2 separate regions of the Homo sapiens genome follow, and region 2 is linked to region 1. The links come from fine-mapping of genetic effects on gene expression. Tissue or cell type: vagina. Region 1 holds a variant in brackets; the other region holds the start of a gene. All regions are shown on one strand. Distances are from middle to middle.

Region 1 (5,152 bases):
TCTGAATACTGTGTAATTAAATTGATTTTTTTGTGATGGTGATTAGCGCATACCAAAAATCCAATGAAACAATTATTTCTCTCTTCTTAACTGGAGATCATATTTGTGAGCTATGGTATCCATTATCAACAGTGTATTCATGATTCCATTCATATTTTGTGTATCTGATTATAAATTTCATATGGCATTTAATTTGACACAATATAAATCCATTTGAATTGACTATAATGGTGTGTGTGTGCATGTGTGTGTGTGTCTATGGTGTATGTGTGCGCTTTAGTTTCATGAGCCTTGGGAAAATGATTCTATAAATATATAGATATAAATGTATCAGGCTAATTTTTTTGCAAAGCAATGTATGCATTCCTTTCACTTATTAAATCACTGGCTTTAGTGTTTATGTAGAGATATCTGTAGACCTCAGAACAGAATTAAAACATTGTGAAAATTATAGCTTGATAAATGTGTACTGTAAAAATAAATCTAATTTGTTGACTACACATTACAACACTGTGTTAAGAATGCTGAGGGAGAAAAATAATTTTAAGATGTAGTTTCTACTGTCTAAGAAGTTTAGTGTCAAGGTGGAGGTAGAAAGAATACAATTATAAAAATAAGTAAAAGCATGATACTCTAAGATGTGGCGCAGGCAATGCACAGCTTTTTGGATAAGGAGTCAGCTGAGAAAAGGCCCCGAGGGAGGTAAGTTTGAAATGTTCTGTGTAGATAAGGGATGAGCTACCTTGAAATTTGCAAAGGTTACAGGTAGATATGTCAGGTAATGTGAAATTGTAAGGAGTTAGCAATTTATTCTATGAGAACAATATTCCATTGAAGGTGTATTAGTAGGGAGTAGTTTGATCACAGGGCTATTTTAGGATGATAATTTTAGGACAAATTTTGTAGGAAGTTGATTGGAGCAGTAATTCTCAAAATGATTTTTTCCCTGAACTTGAGGAGTTGTTACACTCTGATCAGTTAACCGTGGTTTATGGCAGGATGATTGTCATGGGGAATGGTGGCTTCTTGCTGAATGTTGAAATCACTGACATAGAGGAAGAAGAGATTTCCTTTAATAGTAAGCATTCCAGTTCAGGAAGGAAGTGATGAGGCACTTAACTATGGGGTGAGAATAATGGGAAAACTGGAATAAAGGATGGATATGAGTCAGTTGAAAGGGGAATCTAAAGGAATAACTCTGAAGTCTGGAAATAGTATATGAGATGAAATGAACACTTGAAAATTATAGTGATGAGTGGACAAGTAGAAATTGTTATATGTGTTCAATGATTGATAATCTTGTTCCTTTGACACACTAAATGCTCTCACACATTTTGTGCCACTTAAAGAACCATATAGTAGCTTGTGATGGTACCTTCATTGACTTGTCCTGCAAGAATCATATTCCTCACCACAAAATTCTACAGCTTCGACTCTAAGAATCAATCGCTGTTATTGAGTGCCCACTCCTTATCCTAATGCTGGATTCAGGAAATACTGAGAAGAAATCTCAAAAATCTGGATGGGGACATAAGACATTTACTTTTACAAATGTCGAGCATCGTATAATAAGCAGAAAAGCACCTGTTCAGAAGAGGATGCGCTTTAAGTACAGGTTGCCAGTGAGAATAACATAGACTAGGGAGCAAACATTTGAGGGAGGCTTATAGCCACAAAGGTGAGACCAGAATCTTCTCAATTTGCCCGGATTGAGAGCAGTGAATACCACACTGTGAATTTTAATCTACAGCTAAAGATGTATCGTTTTCCAAAAAGGGAATATAGCGATAAAGACCTTCTTGAAAAATAATTTTGCAGTGAAGTGCAGAGTAGACTTTACTGGGAAGCAGTAGGAGATGGTGAGATGGTAAGGATGCATCTGCCACAGTTGTGTAACAGTCATGTGTATATGGTATATATCAATATCCTGGACCTGCCTTGGCTTCAAGGCAGCTCAAATGTGTGGGCCTGGGCCTGTGAGGTGTCTAGCAAGGTCTTGGTTTAGATGATGGCCAGAAGTTCAGCCTAATTGAGTGCAATCATGACAGCTGGGAACCATTCTGACACATTCAAGCTTAAGCTGAGATTTAGGAAGCTCAATCCCTAATTCAGATAGCACGTCCTTGAATGTTGCTGACCCTTCCTGAAACAAAACATGCAAGATAAAATTTCTTAGCTTTTTATAGAGCTTAGCATGTAGTGATTTCAATCCCAAGTGAAAATTATAATATTGATAAAGGCTTTTCCTAGGAAATATATTTTATGAAACTGATAAGTAAGTGTTGGAATTCAACTAGCCTAACCCTTCAGATGATTGCATAATTTTCTTCCAATGCACTTCCAAAGCTTTTTTATTATGGCAAGTTTGCACACAAAAGTAGACAGAACAGCAGAATGAGTATCTATGAATCAATTGCATAATTCCAATGCTATCATTTTGTCAAACTTATTTCACCTATCCCCTTACTTTTGTCGAAAGGGAGGGCTTTTTTTTTTCACAAAACAAATTTCAAACATCATATTATTTCATCTAAAAACACTCCAGGCAGGAAAAACCCACTATTCTTTCACTTTACTTATCATATTTTAAAATAAGCACCTTAGGAATAATAAATCTTTGCCTATTGTATAAGTAAGATTTTCAAAATTGTATTATGATTTGTTTTTTACTTTGCTTGTGCTTTTATTTTTGTCATGCAAAACTTTCAGGTATGAATGTATATATGGGTGTATTTATCTATATGTATTTATATTAACATTTATCCATCTTTTCCCTTACTGATTCTAGATTTTGAATCATAATTGTGAATGTTGTCCCCTTTCTCAGGCCATAAAGGAGTTAGCCCATGTTTTCTTCTTGTACTAGTATGGTTTCATATTCTACATTTGAATATAATTAGTTTGGATTTTATCTGGTGAGAAAAAGATACAGTTCTAAGTACT[C/T]GCATATGACCATGCACTTGATGATTGAGACCCTTAGACAGTCTTCTTTTTCTCAGATTCATCTAAGTCTACAGAATCTTTATTCCTGCTACTTCTCCTTTGCTTATCTTCAGTCACTGTGTGATATGGTTTGGGTCTGTGTCCCTGTCAAATCTCATGTTAAATTGTAAACCCCAATGTGGGAGATGGGGCTTGATGGGAGGTGATTGGCTCATGGGAGCAGGTTTCCTCTTTGGTGCTGTTCTGGTGATAGTGAATGAGTTATTTCAAGATCTGGTTGTTTAAAAGTATGTAGCACCTCCCTCCACCTTTGTTGCTCCTGCACTGCCTATATGAAGAGATGCCTGCTTCCCCTTCACCTTCCTCCATGATTGTAAGTTTCCTGAGGCTTCCCCAGCCATGCTTCCTGTACAGCCTGCAGAACCATGAGCCAATTAAACCTCTTTTCTTCATAAATTACCCAGTTTCAGGTATTTCTTTATAGCAGTGCAAAAGTGAGCTAATGAGGCTGGGCGTGGTGGCTCATGCCCGTAATCCCAGCACTTTGGGAGGCAGAGGCCGGTGGATAACTTGAAACCAGGAGTTGGAGACCAGCCTTGCCAACACATTGAAACCCCATCTCTATAAAAGATACAAAAATCAGCCAGGCATGGTTGTGCATGCCTGTAGGCCCAGCTACTTGGGAGGCTGAGGCAGAGAATTGCTTGAACCCAGGAAGTAGAGGTTGCAGTGAGCTGAGATCACCACTACACTCCAGCCTCCTAGACAAAGTGAGACTGTTTCTCAAAAAAACAAAAAATGAACTAATGATACAGAGACAAATAGTTATATTGTTGACCTCCAAAGAGCTTATAACCCACGTGGGGTTATAGGCCATTAGGCAGACAATTGCAATATAATCTATAAGGCCCTAGAGTAGTGTTATGTATGGACTACTCCATGAGTATATGAATTAAACCTAGATGGCAGAAAGTGAGGAAAGGCTTTTAGGAGGACATTCAATCTCCATGATTTTTTAAAGGTTAAATGTGGGAATCAACTAGAGAAAGTGGTGTTGGGGCCATGGGAGAAGACTGGTTTCCTGCCTGAGGAAGCAGCACATGTAAAGATAGCATCCAGAGGCAGAATAATGTCTTCAGAGAGTGCCAGCAGTTTGTTTTAACTGTAGAGAACACAGAACTCAAGACATGATAACAGATTATTTTTATGGAATGTGTACTATGTGTGTGCCAGACACTGGACTAAGGGCTTTATAAGCATTACCTCTTTTAATCCCAACCATATTAATGCAACACTAATATTACATTAATTATTTTACAGAAGGAAAAATTGAGAAGCAGGGACATAAAGTGAATTCCCAGAACCACATCTGGTGTTAGAGCCAAGATTTGTACCTAGACTGTCTGGCTTTAGGGCCCAAGTTCTTGATGGCTCCACTGTATTGCCAGATTATGAATAGCCTTGAAGAATATAGTGGATCATCAAACGGTTTTCAGCAGAACAATGACATATTTATACTATTAGAAGATGCCTCTGGATGCAGAGTGGAGAATGTATTAAAGAGGCATCAGTGGGTGTGTGGAGCTCGCTTAGGAGCTTAATGGAACCTGAATGAGAAATGTGAATTCAAGAGTTGACCTAAGTGGTAACAATGGGGATGGAGACACATGGATGGAGATATTAAATAGCTAAGACTTCTCCACTAGGTGTTTATGGGTTGACTGGGAAAAAACCCTCTGGCTTGGGCAGCTGGCTGGATGGGGCGCATTAATTCTGAATGTTAACTGATGATACTCTATAGAAAAAGCCAGAACGTAAGATATTTGGTATCGTGATAAACAGATTACACTGTTGTATGATCTGTATATGATCATTTGGGCAGCAATGTAGCTCTGTTCATTATAATATATTAATGTTTAGTGCATACATCTATCAGGTAATACTGTTTATTTTGGCCTGAGACATGTTACCCAACAGTTACTTAATAATAGAACATACATGGCAATGACCAAACACAAATGTTCATTGGAATTCCACAGGTTGCTGAGGCTGTCTTTCACAGTTCCAATCTTCTAACACCTTTTAAGTTTGTTATCTCCAATAGTATCTGATCCTCGAAGATATCCAGGGAAGCTTGTTGGGGATTAATTTTGTAGAATTAGAAGTGCCACTCTTTTGTTAATTTACTGTTGGACAAACATGTCAGAAT
Region 2 (5,152 bases), 440 kb before region 1:
GTATATATAGATCACATAAATATGCACAGTTATTCCATGTCAACTAAAAAGGGAAAAAATCCTTCCTTACAAAGATCACTGTTTGGTAAGCAGTTTAATTCACTGTAATAAAAGCATCTCACAATGCGAAAAAAAGTGGGGGGCGTATTTGGAGGTAATGAGAAGCTAACTGCTGTTTGCTATCATAGGAGAAAATATGAATCTGGACAGTGGCAGTGGAAATTGAGAGGAGGGAAAGGGATGAAGGGGTACTAAGTTTTCTCTAGACCTCAGTCCTTGCTATCTACTAAAAAAACCTATTCTTCACATTTTTCTCTATCTCACATTTATTATTCATTAATATTTCAGAAGTAATATGTTGGGACTAATATTAATGTATTAATACTTTGTGGCAGGCTCTGTAATAGTGTTTAATATGCTTCACCTATTTTAATTTTCACCTTTTTTTTTTTTTTTAGAAAAGCTTACTTTATAATAAGGAATCTGAGACCCAGAGTTGAAGCAAATTGCCCAAGGTTACACAGCTGGTCAGTAGCAGACACAAGATCCAAACCCGGTTTGTCTGAATCCAGTGCTGACGTCCTTGTGCCTCACCTATCCGCCACCGCCAAACTGCTTCCTGTTCTTCCAGTTGTCACTATCCTTGACTCATTGCACTTTGACCTCAATCAATCTTCTTATCTTTTCTTAAAAGAAAAACATGTTTGCTGTCTAATCTTTTCAACTATTATCCAGTCCATTTCTCTTTCCATGTAACCTTGGTCTTCAGTCCATGACAATATCTATCTTCTCACAGATCATTTCAGCTGTTCAGTTTTTGTGCCTTCTAAATTTACTCACACTAAATATTGTCCTGAAAAATTCAAAATATTTCTCCATCCTTTATTCCCTGGTGCTCACCTGAGTATTTTGCATTATTAACTACTTCTTTCTTCTTGAAAGTATTTCTCCCACAAGAGCTGCAAACCTGTGTTCTCCCAGCATGTTGCCATTTTACCCCAGCAGTTCCTTTTCTGTCTTTTTTGCCAGTTCCTTCATCAGAAACTTCTATGTTCTGTGCATGCCATTAGAGGAGCTGAAGTTTTGTTTGGTTCCTTGTTTTCTTTTTGTCTTCTACTATTATTCCCTTTCAATATGACCCCTCAATTTACTCTTCATATTACAATTTTAATTATCATCCTAGAGTACAAATATCTATTTTCCTGTTTTAATTTCTCAAGATTTTGTCAAGACCTAATTTCAAATTAATGTTAAAGACATTTGCTTAGCGGCTTACCAACAACGCGACAAGACACATTTTACACAGTCTCCTCATACACTCCTTCCCTGCTGAGCCAGCCACCTTTCCCAGTAAAGAAGGTAAAGAAGATATAAAAATGATTCATTCTGCTGTTAGTGTCAGTCTTTTGCTCAACTCCCATTTCCCCCAAGTATTTAGATTTTTTTTTTCTTTAAGAAAATAAATGCCAGCTGGGCATAGTGGCTCATGCCTGTAATCTTAGCACTCTTTGGGAGTCCAAGGTGGGAGGGTCGCTTGAGCCCTGGAGATTGAGGTTGCAGCGAGCTGGGATTATGCCACTGCATTCTAGCCAAACAGACAGAGCGAGATCTTGTCTCAAGATTAAAAAAAAAAAAAAAAAAAAAAAGCCAACCACTTACGTTTACAGAATTAAAATTGCAGCCTGCCGCTGACAACCTGAGAAAAAGAGACAAAGTCAGTGGAATAGCCCTTGTTATTTATGCAAGTCCGCATACAGCTAGCCCTGGAGTTCCTGGAGAGCAAGGAACCTCTGTCCCAAACTTGACTCAGAGCTTCCAAAGTTGGTGTATTTCAACAAGTAAGCATTCCATTGAGCCAACAATTTGGTAGGCTACCAGCGGCTCTGGAGCGCCTGTTGATGATGACAGTTTTTGTGGGGGCATCTCAATATGACACACAATTGACACTGACCAGAAACACAGCGCCAAGGACACTCTAGTCCTAGCCATGAAATGTTATGATTCCAGGTTTTCAGGACAGAGCAGAGTCCACTTCTCATCTCCAGTATCCGTAAAAATTTGTCCAAAATGTAACTAAGAAAACACAATGATATTAGTTACTTCTGCTCCCCGTCACCCTCAACCCCACTGATTACGAGATGGGAACTCACACAAAACTTTGAGACAAAAGAGCAACAAGTTTGCTTTATTGTTTGCTTGTTTTGTTCCGGAGTCGGGGCCGGGAGGGAGTGCAGGAGGAGGGATCCAAGCTTCCAAGCCTCTGCTCCGCTCTCCTTCTATCCAGTTGGTCTTTAGGGCACTGAAGGAAACTCTTCTTCAGAAATAACCTTTTAACTTTTCTTCTGTCAGCTGCCTGCCAATCACGGAGCCAGAGGCTGAGGGGAGGCTTTGAGCCGGTCTGCGAGTCCGGAAGGCAAAGATCGCGAAGCTTGGCGCTCCAGAACGCTCAGGGGGCAGGTGACACAGTCGTGGGTTCCCCGGCGGGCGCTGGCTTGACAGTTTCCTCCCCGCCCACTGGCAGGGGAGCGCCCCGCCGGGCTGCACGCGCGCGCGCGCAGGGGGGCATAAAAGCCGCGGCCGCGCGGAGACGCGGAGCTCGCCCACCGCCCGCCCCAGCAGTGGCTGCACCATGCACGTGAACGGCAAAGTGGCGCTGGTGACCGGCGCGGCTCAGGGCATAGGCAGAGCCTTTGCAGAGGCGCTGCTGCTTAAGGGCGCCAAGGTAAGCCCGGCGCCCAGCCGCGGAAATTTCTCTGCCCACACACTCCGAGACTCGCCCCGCCGCCCGAGGTGCACTGGCGGAGACAGGGAGGCCGCGCCCGGCGTGCCCACTTTGCCACTTCCAAAATTTGCTGAAGCTGAGGCTGTGAGCACACCTCAGAAGTGGCTGGGAGGGAACCCAAACCTAATTGCCAAATTTCAGGTCCAGGAGGGGAGCCTCTTGTGTGTTTATTGTTTGTCCGTCTATTTCGTGAGCTGCGCAGGCCCGCGATTCCTCTCCTCTTGTCTATAGGTAGCGCTGGTGGATTGGAATCTTGAAGCAGGTGTACAGTGTAAAGCTGCCCTGGATGAGCAGTTTGAACCTCAGAAGACTCTGTTCATCCAGTGCGATGTGGCTGACCAGCAACAACTGAGAGGTAAGACAGGGGAATCAATCTGTCAACTGGGAACGTGCTCTCAACAAGCAACAACCTGAAGGCAGCCCGGCCAGGGGGCCCTGGGTGCCGCCTCCGCTGCCTCCTCGAGAGCAGCTACCTTGAAGCTCCAAAAGACAGTTTGGACTGATACGTTTCCTTCTGACAGCCCAATAGCTGTAAAACCGAAAGAAAGGCAAGACTGCTGGAGAAATCCTTTTATTGTAGTCATTTGGCAGCATTAATGTAATCAAAATTCCTTTATGTATTCAAAGACAGTGCTGCTGCAGTAATTATTAAATGATTGAAATTGCAGACAAAACTTGGAAAATTAAAGTAGGTTAAGTAAGGTACTGTTGACAAACAACTTCTCCCAGAAAGCTGGAGTCCAATGACAATCAAATGTGGCAGTGTTTTTCGTTTAAACATATCAGAATACAAGTTCAAGGAGCATCATCACAGAAGTGCTAGATGCTTTTGACCATATGTTTTCTCCGGCTTTTTCCCCAATGAGACAGTACTTTAAAATAATAATAATAGTAATCATAATAAAGTATACAATGTTAGAATTGTAGTAGAAACATCTCTATCAGCCTTTCCTCAATGCTTTCCTGTTTCCGGCTACTCACTTAAAATAGACCAATCTACTTGTGAAGTATCAGGGACAATATTGGCATACACAATAAACAGCTTTGATTATAAAGCTGTTTTTTTTTTTTTTGTACATCTATTGGAGAACTTGAGAGTGCCCCAATAAACTTACAGGAAACAAAAATTCTGGAGAAAAACTAGAAAAGTAAAATATTTGTATTTCACAAAGTTTTATTCAAAGAGACTGAGTAAATTGTAAGGCACTTTTTAATCAAGGGGTCTGAAAACTTTTGCAAATCTTATTCCAGTGCTCCTGTTCTTAAAGGGACATCAAATGTACATTTATTTTAAAATTTTAAAATATTCTGTAAGAGAATGAAAATGAACTGACGTGTTAGAAGGAAGTGGTGTACCAACAGTTAAGAGAAATTGTAAAGGAAATTACATAACTGAAATCTGAAAATGCTAATAAAGACCTATAACACAGATGACAAGCATGAGCAGAACAGATTTGTAAACACAATGCAAGAGGAACATATTGTACCAGAGGACAATTATGTTGATTGCACATGATATTTTGGATCAAGGATAGAGCCAGGTCAGATCTCAACATTCATGCTGATGGCATAAGGAACAGTATAAACAATCTGAAAGCCATTTCTGTCTCAATTTATATAGTTTCATAAATGACATTTAACTACAATTGTTTTTTTCCCAGTATTTAAAATTAATACCTTGGCTATAAACTCATTCCTTAAGGATAAATGATTGTGGAGGAGGAAAAATACTCAGACACATAAGTGACCCGGGAAGGCATGTTGGTCATGAGAAATCCACATGTTGTCTGGACATGAGCATTTGCTTGCATCTAAAGGAAACATGACATTGATTCTTCCAGTTTCAGGATTTAATGTTGCCTATAACTTTTAAAATTGTTTAGACAGTGTGGAAATTATAAAAATATGAGATGAAAAGTTTCTTGGAGATAATCTAAACATAACTTATTTTCCAAATGAACAAATCACAGCCAAGAGAGTTTAGGTAAGTTACAAAGAGTACCATAGCATATAAATGTCAGCAAGAGGTAGACTGTCTGTTGCTTGAGCCTGGAATTCAATGGGATGTCAGAAAACAAGATGGTATACTATACATTGGTAAGGGCAGAGTATAAGGAATACGGTGGAGAACAGAATGAGGAAAGAAAATTAAAGCGGCAATTAGACATACATATTTAACACCCTCATTTTCCAAAAGGTGAAGGTTGTTTCTGTGGAGTTATGAAGAGTTAGAACATACTCAGAATGGAAGGAGAAAAAAAAAATACTGGGGGACATTTTCTGGACCCAATTTGAGATTTTAAGAAACATTTTTAAGATTCCATGAAAAAAGGCCGGGTGCAGTGGCTTCACGCTTGTAATCCCAGCAGT

Alleles and levels. Positions count from the first base shown, and alleles are read on the strand shown. Sizes are in standard deviations (SD) of each study's normalised expression.
For the expression in vagina of the gene that starts at base 2,593 in region 2, T is the high allele of the variant in region 1 and C is the other (large effect, 0.86 SD a copy in GTEx).

What was found. PIP is the estimated chance that this variant, and not a neighbour inherited with it, causes the effect.
Region 2: it holds the start of HPGD, and the variant in region 1 is fine-mapped to the expression of HPGD in vagina (GTEx, PIP above 0.99).

Annotation. Positions count from the first base shown.
Region 1 is chr4:174,080,697-174,085,848 of GRCh38, reverse strand. All of the region lies in intron 1 of LOC107986204 (a long non-coding RNA gene), which reads left to right. Among named protein-coding and RNA genes, the nearest start is that of LINC02268, 140 kb to the left of the region's middle. The variant C/T (reference allele first, on the strand shown) is at 2,944.
Region 2 is chr4:174,519,929-174,525,080 of GRCh38, reverse strand. HPGD (15-hydroxyprostaglandin dehydrogenase) reads left to right here and starts at 2,593. Exons shown (of 7, transcript NM_000860.6): 1 at 2,593-2,722; 2 at 3,014-3,137. The coding sequence starts at 2,630. LOC105377548 (a long non-coding RNA gene) reads right to left here and starts at 2,468. Exons shown (of 7, transcript XR_007058492.1): 1 at 1,952-2,468; 2 at 1,660-1,696.